3 separate regions of the Homo sapiens genome follow, and all the other regions are linked to region 1. The links come from fine-mapping of genetic effects on gene expression. A gene starts in region 1. Each other region holds a variant in brackets. All regions are shown on one strand. Distances are from middle to middle.

Region 1 (4,244 bases):
ACTTAACTTTGAGTTTGGCGGCTTTCTTACACACTTGCCTACTATTAAGAGTCAAAAATAATTCCAATCTAGAAGAATAGTACTTTCTCTTTTCCCCTACCATTAGCTTTTGCTAGTTTTGACAATTTTGGGGAGTCTGTAAACCTGATATAATTATTTTAATGTTATATTTTTTATAAAATAAAGAATTTGAGGAGAAAAAGGATGTTTTAAAAATCTAATTCTCCCTACCTCAGAGAACTCAAGCATATTACTTATTTCACACTTTTAATCATTTCTTCTCTTTTTCTTTTCTCCAGTTTGCATGCTGCAGACTTGTTCTTATAATCTCTTCTTAAGTCTTTCCAGCAGCATCTGCTTTTCACCTTTTCTCATTTCTTCCCCTGATTTTTCAATGCAGTTTTCAATGGTTTTCTTTTGACACCACTTTCAAATTTCAATTTTTTCTTCTGTTCTCTTTCTTCCTCTATATTCCACATATGACTTCCAAAGGTTTTGTAAAGATGAATTGTCCAGGATTAAGAGAGTGATTGATTAAGAGCCTACAGAACTGGGAAGAGGAGAGCTGCCAAGCTTTTCTTTATGTGTAGCACAGTGGAGCTACCCAGAGTGTGAGAAGCAAGAAACAGAGAGCCTTGCTAAGGCACGACGAAAAGGGGAAGCCTATTAAAAGAATGATCTGGAGGAGTGTGCAGTGAAGAAAATAAAGTAGAGCCAGCCTGCTGGGTCAGTAGCTAATAGCCCATGGGTTTACAACTAAGGAAGTTAAAATTCTAGCTAATGAGAATTGTAGACACCTACTGAGAGTGAACCGAAGGCTTCCTATTAACTTCCCTTCTTGGGTCTTTTTGACAGAACAGTCAGAAAGTTGTTTCCTATTTGTTTAGTAGCAAAAGAGTTGAAATGGAGGTTTAAAAAATGATGAAAGAGAAGTTGGAGGCAATCTCTTACTCAGCTCCTTCACGAGGTCCAAATACGATGTCTCCCCCACTCCACTCAAAATGTAAATCAGCATAGGTCACAAAAAGAGGAAGGACAGTTAAAAAAAAAAAAAAGAGTTGGGCCAAATAAGACATACAGCCAAGATGACTGAGACAATCAGAGAGGATTTGGGGTGTGGGGACTTCAAATTAATAAATCCGGTATTAGCTTTGTGGAATTAGCAGGATTAGGGTACCTCTTTCAAGAACACTGGTTGAATTTCATGGTTTCAATAGATGACCATTAGCTGTTATGTGCACCCCCCCCCCCCTTTTTTCTTGCAGAAGTTAAGAAGTCTGCTTAACTCGCAGGTCACCAAGAGATTGATTAAAGGCCTCTGGACATCATTTGGGTTTGGATAAATCTGTAGGGCCACTTTACAGACTGTCTCCAACTCCTGATCCCACTGTGGTTCTTTCTGAATTGATCCAGGTCCCTGCTAGCAAGTGAAGCAGAAAGAATCCAGGCTAGTTGTGAGATGACATACAGCAAGCAGGCTGAGATGATGGGGACATTTCAGAACCAAGAGGAGGGGGCGGGCAGGACACGGACTTGTCTCCCCCACCTTGATGCCAAGGTGGCATCTGGGAGATATCTCGAAGGGCAACGTCGAGGGGACTGCAAGCGTCAACCCTGGCGCGGCAGCACGGCGCCCCTCTCCGCGGGCGGGGAGCGAGCGCGTGTGCGCGAGAGCGCCGGGCGGCGGCGGGAGGAGGCGCAGGCGCGCTGCTCGCCCGTCTGCAGCCCCGAGCCGAGCGCCGCGTCTCGGGAGTTGATGGCAGCACCACTGTGCGGCCGCCCGGCCGAGCGCGGAGCGCAGCCACTCGCCGCTGCCCAGGGAGCGCCCAAGATGTGGGGGGACCGGGGCGGCAGCGGCCGTAGCAGCGCCAGGGACGGGGGCACGCAGCAGCCTCCGCTCGCCCGCCTGTCCTGACCTGCCTCGCTTGCCCCCAAAGAATGTCAGCCAAGTCCAAGGGGAACCCCTCCTCGTCCTGTCCAGCCGAGGGACCGCCGGCAGCCTCCAAAACCAAGGTGAAGGAACAGATCAAGATCATCGTGGAGGATTTGGAATTAGTCCTGGGCGACCTGAAGGACGTGGCCAAGGAACTTAAGGAGGTGAGAGGCGCAGGGGTGGGGAGGGAGTTCGGCACCCTTCGACCCCTCCGGGGTCCCCTTTCCGATTTTCAGCAGGGACAGCCAGATTTCCAAACTCCTGGGAAACTACAGAAAAGGCGCCTGCAGACGGACTTTCTTTGCTCCTGGAGTCCTGAGAGGAGTTGTTGTTGCACTTTTTAATTTTTTTTTTTAATCAGGAAGAAATCAACTAGTGTTTTAATCGATGGACCTGGGCTGGTGGGAGGGATGAACGCACGCGTGTCTCTGAATCTGTGTGTGTGACGACGGGGGAGAGGGTTAGCTGGGGGTGTGTCGGCAGAGGAAGTCGTGAGCAGCCCGGCTGGAGCGTGCAAGATGCTCCTCTCCTGCCCTATTGCTTCCCCAGAGTCCTTTGGCAAGTCCGCTGCCTATCTGTCAGCCTCCCCAAGTCAGGGCTGAAGAGGGGCCGGGTTCTGGGCCCTGGGCCAGATCAGGGAGGGCAGCCTGGAGGAAGCTTGGCTCAGACTACCCTCCCTGTCTCTCGAGCCTCGCTGTAGGGAAGGCGACCCGGGCTGCTGGCAGCCTTGGGGCTAAGGAGGGGGTCTGGGACTTTCTCACTTTCTCAGTTTCTGAAGCATCCCCTGCTCTCCTCCGAACGTCGTTACCAGTAACTCTGGGCCTTCCCGCCACCCTACCTCTGCTTCCTTCCTTCCACCCTGTCGCCACTTGGCATTGAACCCGAGAAGCAGGACGCGCAGGAGAGTGTATGTGTGGCCGGGGTCTTGCCATTGGCGTCCTGGCTCTCTGCAGCTGGGACTGCTTCGGTTCTTCCCCGCTTTTCCTATCCCACTTCGGTTCAGCCCTACTCCCGCCCGCCCCTAGCCCCAGGTGATCCAGATGGAAAGAAGCAGAGAAGGTGTCAGGGCTGAGGCTGCGTAACTCAGGCGGCGGCTCCGGGCGGGGGCGGGGGCCGGGCTGGGAGGGGTGGGGTCTCCCGAGCCAGGCTGGCTGCCGGCGGCGTCGCGGAGCTGGTAGCAGAGTCCCAGCGCGCCGCTCACTACTGAATGGGGTCCTGGTGCGGTTCTCGGTGAGGGAGTCCGCAGCTCCGCTGCGTGAGAGCTAAGACTAGAACTTCGAAGGTGGCGGTGGCTGCAGCGGGAAAAGGGGTGGGGCGTAGTCTAGGTCCAAAATTGTAATCCTGTTTCTGAAGCCAACGGGGAGGAGACTGAGGGTTGTTTGGATGACTGGCCTCTAGAGATTAACCTCCTGTATTCAATTTCCAAACCAAATTTCAAGAGCCCCCTCGTCTTCCTCCCCTTCCCCCGTTACCTCTATGAACTGAACTCTGCATTTGTTACCTAATGCAAGTCTGTTAAAATGGGCCATTCGTCACCAGGGTTAAGTTTGCCAGTGGTAAATGTCGTTCCTGTAGGTTACTCCACAGACAGAACATAATTAGTACTGAGGTCCTGAGAGTGGCTGTTAGTATACATAGATTCAGGGATAAAACTTGTTCGTGTTTTCAGGGTTTCTGTAGGATTATTGCTTCACAACTGGTTGACAGATGGTGGGGTTATGCATTGAAATTCAATTCTAAAAATGCTGTCCCTTTCTTTGTTATTCTTTTATATGACATCTTTGGTAGACTGTGTTTTCATCTGAAACATGGCGTTTTAAAAAATGAAATTGGGCATGTTCCTTTCGGCAGAATTGTGCTTAATAGTTGGTGAGGTTTCTATGGGCGATGTGGAAAACCTACAGCGGCACAGAAACGTATTTACTGTTTTCATGAGGCTGAGACTAAAAGAAAGGTAGTTAAACAGAATTCTGCATCTGTGAGCCATACTTCCTTATGTTTTAATGTCAGTCCACTCACTTTTTTTGCACAGAATAAATGACAAGAAACTGCACATGGTCCTGGTTTTGCTTTGCATCATTATTTATGGACATTTAGAGATTAAGTAGTGAAATCTTCAACCTCCCTGTGGTTATTGGTTAGAATCACAAAAATGTAAGTCAGGAAATCTGTTGATACCACTTTCTGTGTCTTCATTACTGAAGATTTTTTAAGGTTAAAAAAAAGGTTGTTTATAAGAGGAATAAAAAGCAGAGATAATGTACAACCCAGTAGATGAAACTATCTGACAGATCTAGAGATACAATTTTGA
Region 2 (4,244 bases), 59 kb before region 1:
TATTGGTACACTGGAATATTATTTGTTAAATAAATGAAATACTAATACATGCTACACCTGGATGATTCTTGAAAACACTATACTAAGTTACAGAAGCCAGTGACAAATGCCACATACAGTATTACTGACTATTAAATGTTCAGAATAGGCAAATCTGTGGAGGAAATCCGATTAGAGATTTGTGAGGGATAGGGATGCTGTGGAGAGGCAATAGATATGGAGCTGATTTTAGGTGGGAAGAAAATTTTCTAAATTTAGATTGTGGTAATGGTTTCACAACCCTATAAAATATTTTAAAACATTAAAGCTTACACTTTAAATTGGTGAATTGCATGGTATATGAATTATTTCTCAATAAAGATGTTTAAGAAAGATTGAATGAACAAATTATACTCAAAATAATGGTAAATATTGAAGATATTTAAAAATAAATATACTAAGTATGTTAGTTTGTTGTATGCTTAATGAAAGAAAATGTAAACTATTCTAATTGCTATATTAATTAGATATCGCCAACCATTTCTAATGCAGGTTCTATGGAGGCCACTAGCAAACAACAGTTTGAATGTGTAACCAGTTTGTATCATTCCTTAAACAGTCTGTAATTTTTATTTCCCAACCTTGAAGCAGGACTTGACTTTTCATCTTAGCCCTCTGACTTTACTTTTTAAAAATTTTTGTATTTATTTCATGATCTCTGAAAAAGATTGAGAAGCCTTCTGACTTCAAGTCCACTACCACATCATTAGTGGGCTGTGTGTAGATTTAAGTAAAAAAAAAAGCGGGGAGAGGAGTCATATTTAGGAGAGGAGATAAAAAACGTTTATAACAAATTCCGTGTGGAAAATATTTTAGTAAATATCTCATTTGGCACTTCAATCCTCCCATAAATTTCTTCTTCACCTGTCACATGTTTTTCACCTCTCTGTCAACTTTCCTTCCACAGTCTAAACCTATTTTTTCCTGCCCAATTGCTTATTCAGAATTTCTTTGTGTTATTACAGTGCCAGGATACACTGTTACTACAGTGCCACCCATAGCCCTGGACATATAGCTTCTCTCTTAGTCTGTCTTGTGTTGCTATAACAGAATTCTATAGACTGGATAATTTGTAAAGAAAATAAGTATATTTCTTACCATTTTGGGGGCTGAGAATTCCAAAAGCACGGTGCTTATATCTGGTGAGAGCTTTCATGCTGCAATATCCCGTGGCAAAAGAGCAGAAGGGAGAGCAAGCATATGCAAGAGAGCAGAACATCAGGGGCTGGCCTCACTTTTATAACTACCCTGCCATATGATAACCAACCCACTCTTGTGGTAACATTAGTCTATTCATGAGGGTGAAGCCCTCATGACTTAATCACTTTTTAAAGACCCCACCTCCAAATACCATCATACTGGCAATTAAATTTCAACATGAGTTTTGGAGGGGACATTCAAATCATAGCAGATTCCAAGTTTATCATGTTTTACCTCAATAAAACTATTGGTATTTTGTTACTATACACACACACAGAAAATTTTTTTTTCTACATCCAGATCCTTATAAATAAATTAATGAATATTATTAAGGTATTTTGAAAGGCTAAATTTATTAATATGAATAATTAACATGTTCATGGTACAAAAACTTTGCAATTTGACCAGTTTTATTTATTAATATTTATTTATTAACACTATGTGTCAGATATCATGGTAGATGCTGAGTATATCCAAATATGGAAGTCATAGTCCTTGCAAATAATTGAAATTCACAATTCAGCTCTTTCACAAGCAAGATCTGCATTTACATCCCCTCAACTCTGAAAGGAAACTAAAGCAATATGAGAAAACTAAGGCTCTGGAAAATCTTGATGAGTCATGCAACTACTGTCCAGATTTGTACTCACAGTTTCTAATAATAAATGTGTGGGTTTTTTTTTAATTGGGCCAGTGAATCACACTGACTATAAAAGTTTGCATACATTATCTTATTTAGGTTTCATATAATCCCATTTTTGGCTTCAGAAACATTTAATCAGTATATCTTGGATAGGTATCATTAACCCCTGTATCTGTCAGGCCAGCTCATGTTTTTGCATCTATGCATTACCTTCATTCCTCCTGCAATAGCTACTTCGTTAATGAACTCAAGCAAAATCTGAGATGGTTGTGTAAGAAAGGCTAATTGATATCAGTAAAGTGGTTTATTTTGTTGATTACTGACCATATCCTCAGCAGCTGGATGAACACTGAGATAGGACAAAGTTTCTCCCAGACTGTACTCATTTCAAGAAAAACCTTTCCAAATTTTTATCAACATTCTATTCTTATTTACATAAAAAAGAACCCACTATTGCTAATTGATATGGTTTGGCTGTGTAGCCACCCAAATCTCATCTTGAATTCCCCCATGTTGTGAGAGGAACTCAGTGGGAGGTAATTGAATCAT[A/G]GGGGTAGGTCTTTCCTGTGCTATTCTTGTGATAGTGACTAAGCCTCATGAGATCTGATAGTTCTATAAGGGGCAGTTTCTGTACACAAGCTCTCTTTTATCTTATCTGCTGCCATATGAGAGGTGCCTTTCACATTCTGCCATGATTGTGAGGCCTCCCCAGCCATGTGAAACTGTAAATCCAATAAACCTCTTTTCTTTGTAAATTGCCCAGCCTTGGGTATGTCTTTATTAGCAGCATGAAAATGGACTAATACAGTAAATGAGTACCAGTAGAGTGGGGCACCACTGAAAAGATACCTGAAAATGTAGAAGCCACTTTGGAGCTGGGTAACAGGCAGAGGTTGGAACAGTTTGGAGGGTTCAGAAGATGACAGGAAAATGCAGGAAAGTTTGGAACTTCTTAGAGACTTGTTGAATAGCTTTAACCAAAAGGCTGATAATGATATGGACAATTAAATCCAGGCTGAGATAGTCTCAGATGGAGGTGAGGAACTTGTTGGGAACTGGAGCAATGATGACTCTTGTTATGTTTTATCAGAGAGACTGGTGGCATTTTGCCCCTGCCCTAGAGATTTGTGGAACTTTCAACTTGAGAGAGATGATTTAGGGTATCTGCAGGAAGAAATTTCTAAGCAGCAAAGCAGTAAAGAGGTAACTTATGTGCTGTTAAAGGCATTCAGTTTTAAAAGGTAAACTAAACATAAAAGTTCAGAAAATTTGCAGCCTGACAATGTGATAGAAAAGAAAATCCCATTTTCTAAGGAGAAATTCAAGCTGGCTGCAAAAATTTGCATAAGTAACAAGGAGCCGCATGTTAATCCCCAAGACAATGGGGAAAATGTCTCTGGGACATGTCAGAGGTCTTCACAGCAGCTCCTCCCATCACAAGCCCAGATGCCCAGGAGGAAAAAATGGTTTTGTGGGCCAGGCCCTGGGTCCCTGTGCTGTGTGCAGCTTAGGGACTTGGTGCCCTGCCTCCTAGCCACTCCAGCTGTGGCTGGAAAAGGCCAACATGAAGCTCAGGTCGTGGCTTCAGAGGGTGCAAGTCCTAAGCATTGGCAGCTTCTACATGGTGTTGAGCCTACAAATGCACAGAAGTCAATAATTGAGGTTTAGAAACCTCTGCCTAGATTTCAAAGGATGTATGCAAATACCTGAATGTCCAGGCAGACACATGCTTCAGGGGTGGGGCTCTCATGAAGAACCTGTGCTAGGGCAATGCAGATGGGAAATGTGGGGTTGGAGCCCCCTCACATCATCCCTACAGGAGCATCACCTAGCGGAGCTGTGACAGGAGGGCTGTCATCCTCCAGACCCCAGAATGGTAGATCCACTGACAGCTTGCACTGTATGCCTGGAAAAGCCACAGACAGTCAACACCAACCCATGCAAGCAGCCGGGAAGGAGGCTGTACACTGCAAAGCCACAGGGAGCTGCCCTAGACCATGGGAGCCCATGTCTTGCGTAAGTGTGACCCAGATGTGAGACACAGAGTCAAGGGGATCATTTTGGAGATTTAAGATTTGACTGCTCTGCTAGATTTTGGACTTTCATAGGGCCTGTAGCCCCTTTGTTTTGACCAATTTCTCCCATTTGGAATGGTTTTACTTACCTGTAGCCTCATTGTATCTAGGAAGTAACTAACTTGCTTTTGATTTTACAGGCTCGCAGGCAGAAGGGACTTGCCTTGTCTCAGATGAGACATTGGACTGTGAACTTTTGAGTTAATGGTGAAATGAATTAAGACTTTGGGGGACTGTTGAGAAAGCATGATTGGTTTTGAAATGTGAGGACATGAGATTTGGGAGGG
Region 3 (4,244 bases), 390 kb before region 1:
GGATAACGTTTTTAAAGTTCATTGATAGTGATGCAATTGAACTCAATTGCTATTGGAAATTGTATTCAGTAAATTAAATTGAAATGACTAAATTTAGACAATTTTCTTGCCCCAGTTTTATTTCTTTAAGTTATTGATCAACTCAGACGAACTGTAAATTGGACTAGAAGATACAAAGTAATAACTTAGAAATTCAGCTATAAAATAAAAAAGAATCTACCTTTTGTGTTATGGAGAAATTTCATTGGGTTAAAAATATGTTTAGTCTCATGCAGAAAACTCTATCTTCCCCTTGTGCTAGTGCCTATGCACATAATCTGTTTTGATTGATTGCTGACCCTGCAACACTACCAGGAGTACTCCTTAGCCATTTTAGAGAATAATTTAAACCTTCAATAAGGCAAAATACTTCGAAACGAGAGAAGCAATTAACATCCAATATCCAGAAATGAATTTGTGAATTCAGAAATATGAAATTTGTTTTTGTTGTGAGAGACTTTCAATTTCAAAATTTCACTTGTATATTTTGGTCTAGAACTTAACTTCCATTCCTCAAAGAAAATTGTCAGTATATCCAAATAAAACATATACTTGGAAACCCTGAAATGTTTTATCTCCTGGTTTCTTAACTTGGATCCTGGTTATTTTCCAACCAGTAACTTGTTTCCTGATAATTCATATGATGTAAATATAAAGTACTTAATTCTCTTGTATTTTTAGCTAGGTAACATTAGCTTGAAATTTTATGTCTGATTTTGGGTGAAAGAACCACTTAGAAAAAGAAAGACATGCATGTGAAAGCCAGCATCTAAAAATAGTTTCTAAATATGAAGCAAAGAAGGTACTGTAGTCTTCCTTATAATTAGACATGTGCCAGAATGTTGATGTGGAGGCATGAAACTCAGTTATGAAAAGAGGAGGAAAATATGGACAAAAAATACTGAGAAAAAAGGGTTTTATAATTTAATTTTGAGGATTTTAAGACAATTAAATACTCCTAAGTAGTCTTTATTTCTACTTTATTTAAAAGATTCCAATTTGAACACACACACCCTGAGAAATTAAAACAGTATGATATTTCTAAATGTCAAATGTATGTTTCCCAACAGAAAAATTAAACATGCAGTTGGTTTGATATAAAATAAGAATCATCATGAAATTATGTGACTGATATTTGCAATTTTATTCAGTAAAACATGTCTGTGTTTCAGATATAGTGTATACAATTAACACAGTAATTCTCATATGGTATAGAATGAGTAGTTGTATATTTATATACTTGTTCTCCTTCTGTGAGTGTTGTAAAGATTATTAGTTCTTGACTTTCAGCATTCTGAGAAATGCATGTTTTACAAAATGTAAAAATTCACTACAAAATCCATAAAATCTACTCATTTAAAAATGTATTTAAGTCCTTTAAAGTTAAAAAAACAAAACCAAACCTTTTTACTGGCAAAGTTTTTCAACTGAGGGGCATAAAAATGTAGGAGCTATACTAAGACTTGTTTTTATTTTTTAATGCAAATGAAATTAATAAATTTAGTATTAAAATATATTTTGTATTTCTGTGAAAATATAAACAATTATGAACAGTTATGTCTGTCTATACACGGGTGGTGCTGAATTTAAAATAGGGATAGCAAAATGGTGAATTTGGGGAAGAATCTAGTCAGCATATGTGTTCTCTGAGTAGAAATTTCAAGAAAAATAGCATCAATTTGTACTAGCTGTTTCTTGGAATCTTATTCCTTTAGAAGTTGTCTATTCTCTCCCTCTGTACAACGCTTTCTTTTAAAACACTAAATGCTTTTCTTTCCCATGAAACTCTTAACTTCAGTGATGTTGGCTAATCTTTGGACACTGAAGCCTGTTAGCCTCTTTTAGAAGTTTTCAGGATAATCCAGTGGCAAAGGAGTGTCACTATGAAATGTTGTCAATGGCCTATGAATATAGAATATAGATAATTGGATGCCATCTACATCCAATCGTTTGATTTCCAAATCAAGAATGCATACTGATTCCCC[T/C]ATACCATTCCTTATTTAAAAAAAAGACTTTCATGGCACTGAAATCTCAAAGAAATTTATTATATTCATATTTGACTAAACTTATGGGTATAGTGTATATTAAAAGGAAGAATGTCTTACAAAAATAAAGTATATTTCACATAGGTACTTATCGTAATTATCTTTGAAAACCAAGAACCTGCCATTAAAGTACATCATAATAAGGGTGACTCCGTCAGAGGATAAAATAAAAGTAGACTTCTAATCATCTAAGTTATTCAATTCAATAGTAGACAGTAGAACAACTACCTAGAGCCAGAACTTATTCTGCATTTGATAAGCATAATCCCTTATCCCTCCATTTCTCTTTGTTTTTGCTGAGAATCATAGAGATAAATATAATTTATTAGATAGATGATTAATAAATGGTTTGGCCCAGGTGATTTAATTGTTCTTTCTGTCCTTGGTCCTTATTTTAAAATTTTACTTTATTAGACTTACTATATCTGTGCTCTTTGTTGTCTATTATCTAAAAGCCAACTTGGAATTAGGCAGGGCATAAATAAATATAATTTGATGATATGGAGTATATTGGAATAAAATGGAAACTTATTCCATTACCTTAAAAATTCAAAAGCTAGGCTGGGCATGGTGGTTCATGCCTGTAATCCCGGGACTTCGGGAGGCTGAGGCCTCAGGCCAATCACCTGAGGTCAGGAGTTTGAGACCAGCCTGGTCCAACACAGTGAAATGCTGTCTCTACTAAAAATACAACTATTAGGCGGGTGTTGTGGTGTGTGCCTGTAATCCCAGCTACTCAAGTCTGAGGCAGGAGAAACACTTGAACCTGAGAGGTGGAGGTTGCAGTGAGCTGAGATCATGCCACTGCACTCCAGCCTGGGTGACACAGTGAGACATCATCTCAAAAAAAAAAAAAAATTCAAAAATTAGTTGTAAAAAGAAAGCCCAAAAAGTGATGTCCAGAGAAAGGAGTTCTCAGGGTTCAAGGAGCTGAAACGTCCATGGGAGAAGAGTAGAAACACTATAGCTCCAGATGCTGGACTTTTTGTTAGTGTAACAGTTGCTGCACATCTGTGATTATTGTAATTTACAGATGTCTGGAGCCAGGGTTATAGAAATTGTTCACACTGTGTATCAAGTCTTTTTGCCTAAATTCATAAAAATGCTGTAAAGGGGAGATCAGGTGAATTTGAAAATAATGGTTTTTTTAAGTAAAAAATTCAGAAAATCTGATAGAAGCTTTATTTACAGCTGCCCTGATTGAGGATTAAACATTGCCTTGCCATATGGGAAACCTCTAATCCAAATCAGGAGTTTGACCTTTGAGCTCCTTGGGCCATAGGAAATTGAGAGACAGGCAAACAGTTATCTCTTGTTTAATAAACCTTGAATATGACTGATTTTTCTTTCCAAAAAGTAAAACTCTATGTTTCATTAAAATATGTCAAATTCCAGGAAGATCTGACTGACATGGGAGTGAGATGGGCATCTATCTGTCTTTAATTTTTCTGAGCTAAAATATTTGACCATAAGCAGTGCCAAAGAGAACATCCTAAATCTTACTTTGTGGAAAACTTGTGTCAATCACTATCACACAGGGCTGCCCAAGATTATGGCAGTTTGGATAAAAACACACTGCTTCTGTCTCTGTTGCTTGTGAATTTCTTGGCCACTCTGTATGTTTTCTTTTTTCCTTTTATTAAATGTTCTCATGAAAAAGGCAGAGATCTGACTATATTTGTAGACTAGTGCAGTCATCCCTCAATTTCCCTGGGGGAGTGTTTCCAGGAACCCCATGAATACCTAAATTTATGAATACTCTCAATCCTTGTTATAAAATGGCATACTATTTGCCAATAATCTTTGCACATCCTCCTGTAAACTTTAAATACTCTCCAGAATACTTATAATACCTAATACAATGTAAATGCTGTATTGTTGAGGGAATAATTCAACAAAAAAGTATGTACATATTCAGTACAGATGCAATTTTTTTCCAAATATTTTCAATCTGTACTTGGTTGAAACTATGAATGTAGAACCCACAGATTCAGACAGCCAACTGCACTCGGTCCATGACACATTATTACAAAATTGCATTTCTGGTGTAATTTTTCTCTTCTCAAAATTTGGCCAGTGAAATTTTATTTCTGAAATTTGGCTTTAGGAAATCCTTTTTACTGTAACACCTAAGTCGCTTTCTCCAACCTGGTCTTTATT

Direction of the effects. Alleles are on the strand shown, and positions count from the first base shown. SD is a standard deviation of normalised expression in the study named. Not every link is listed here.
With allele A in place of G in region 2, the expression in monocytes after LPS of the gene that starts at base 1,752 in region 1 is higher (moderate effect, 0.73 SD a copy in Quach 2016).

The links. PIP is the estimated chance that this variant, and not a neighbour inherited with it, causes the effect.
Region 2: its variant is the best candidate, but not a certain one, in a credible set for the expression of PRR16 in monocytes after LPS (Quach 2016, PIP 0.84).
Region 3: its variant is the best candidate, but not a certain one, in a credible set for the expression of PRR16 in whole blood (INTERVAL, PIP 0.60).

The regions. Positions count from the first base shown.
Region 1 is chr5:120,462,549-120,466,792 of GRCh38, forward strand. PRR16 (proline rich 16) reads left to right here and starts at 1,752. Exons shown (of 2, transcript NM_001300783.2): 1 at 1,752-2,097. The coding sequence starts at 1,939. RefSeq lists a silencer at 1,671-1,720 and an enhancer at 2,126-2,627.
Region 2 is chr5:120,403,618-120,407,861 of GRCh38, forward strand. No RefSeq gene overlaps it. Among named protein-coding and RNA genes, the nearest start is that of PRR16, 59 kb to the right of the region's middle. The variant A/G (reference allele first, on the strand shown) is at 2,432.
Region 3 is chr5:120,068,511-120,072,754 of GRCh38, forward strand. No RefSeq gene overlaps it. Among named protein-coding and RNA genes, the nearest start is that of PRR16, 390 kb to the right of the region's middle. The variant T/C (reference allele first, on the strand shown) is at 2,025.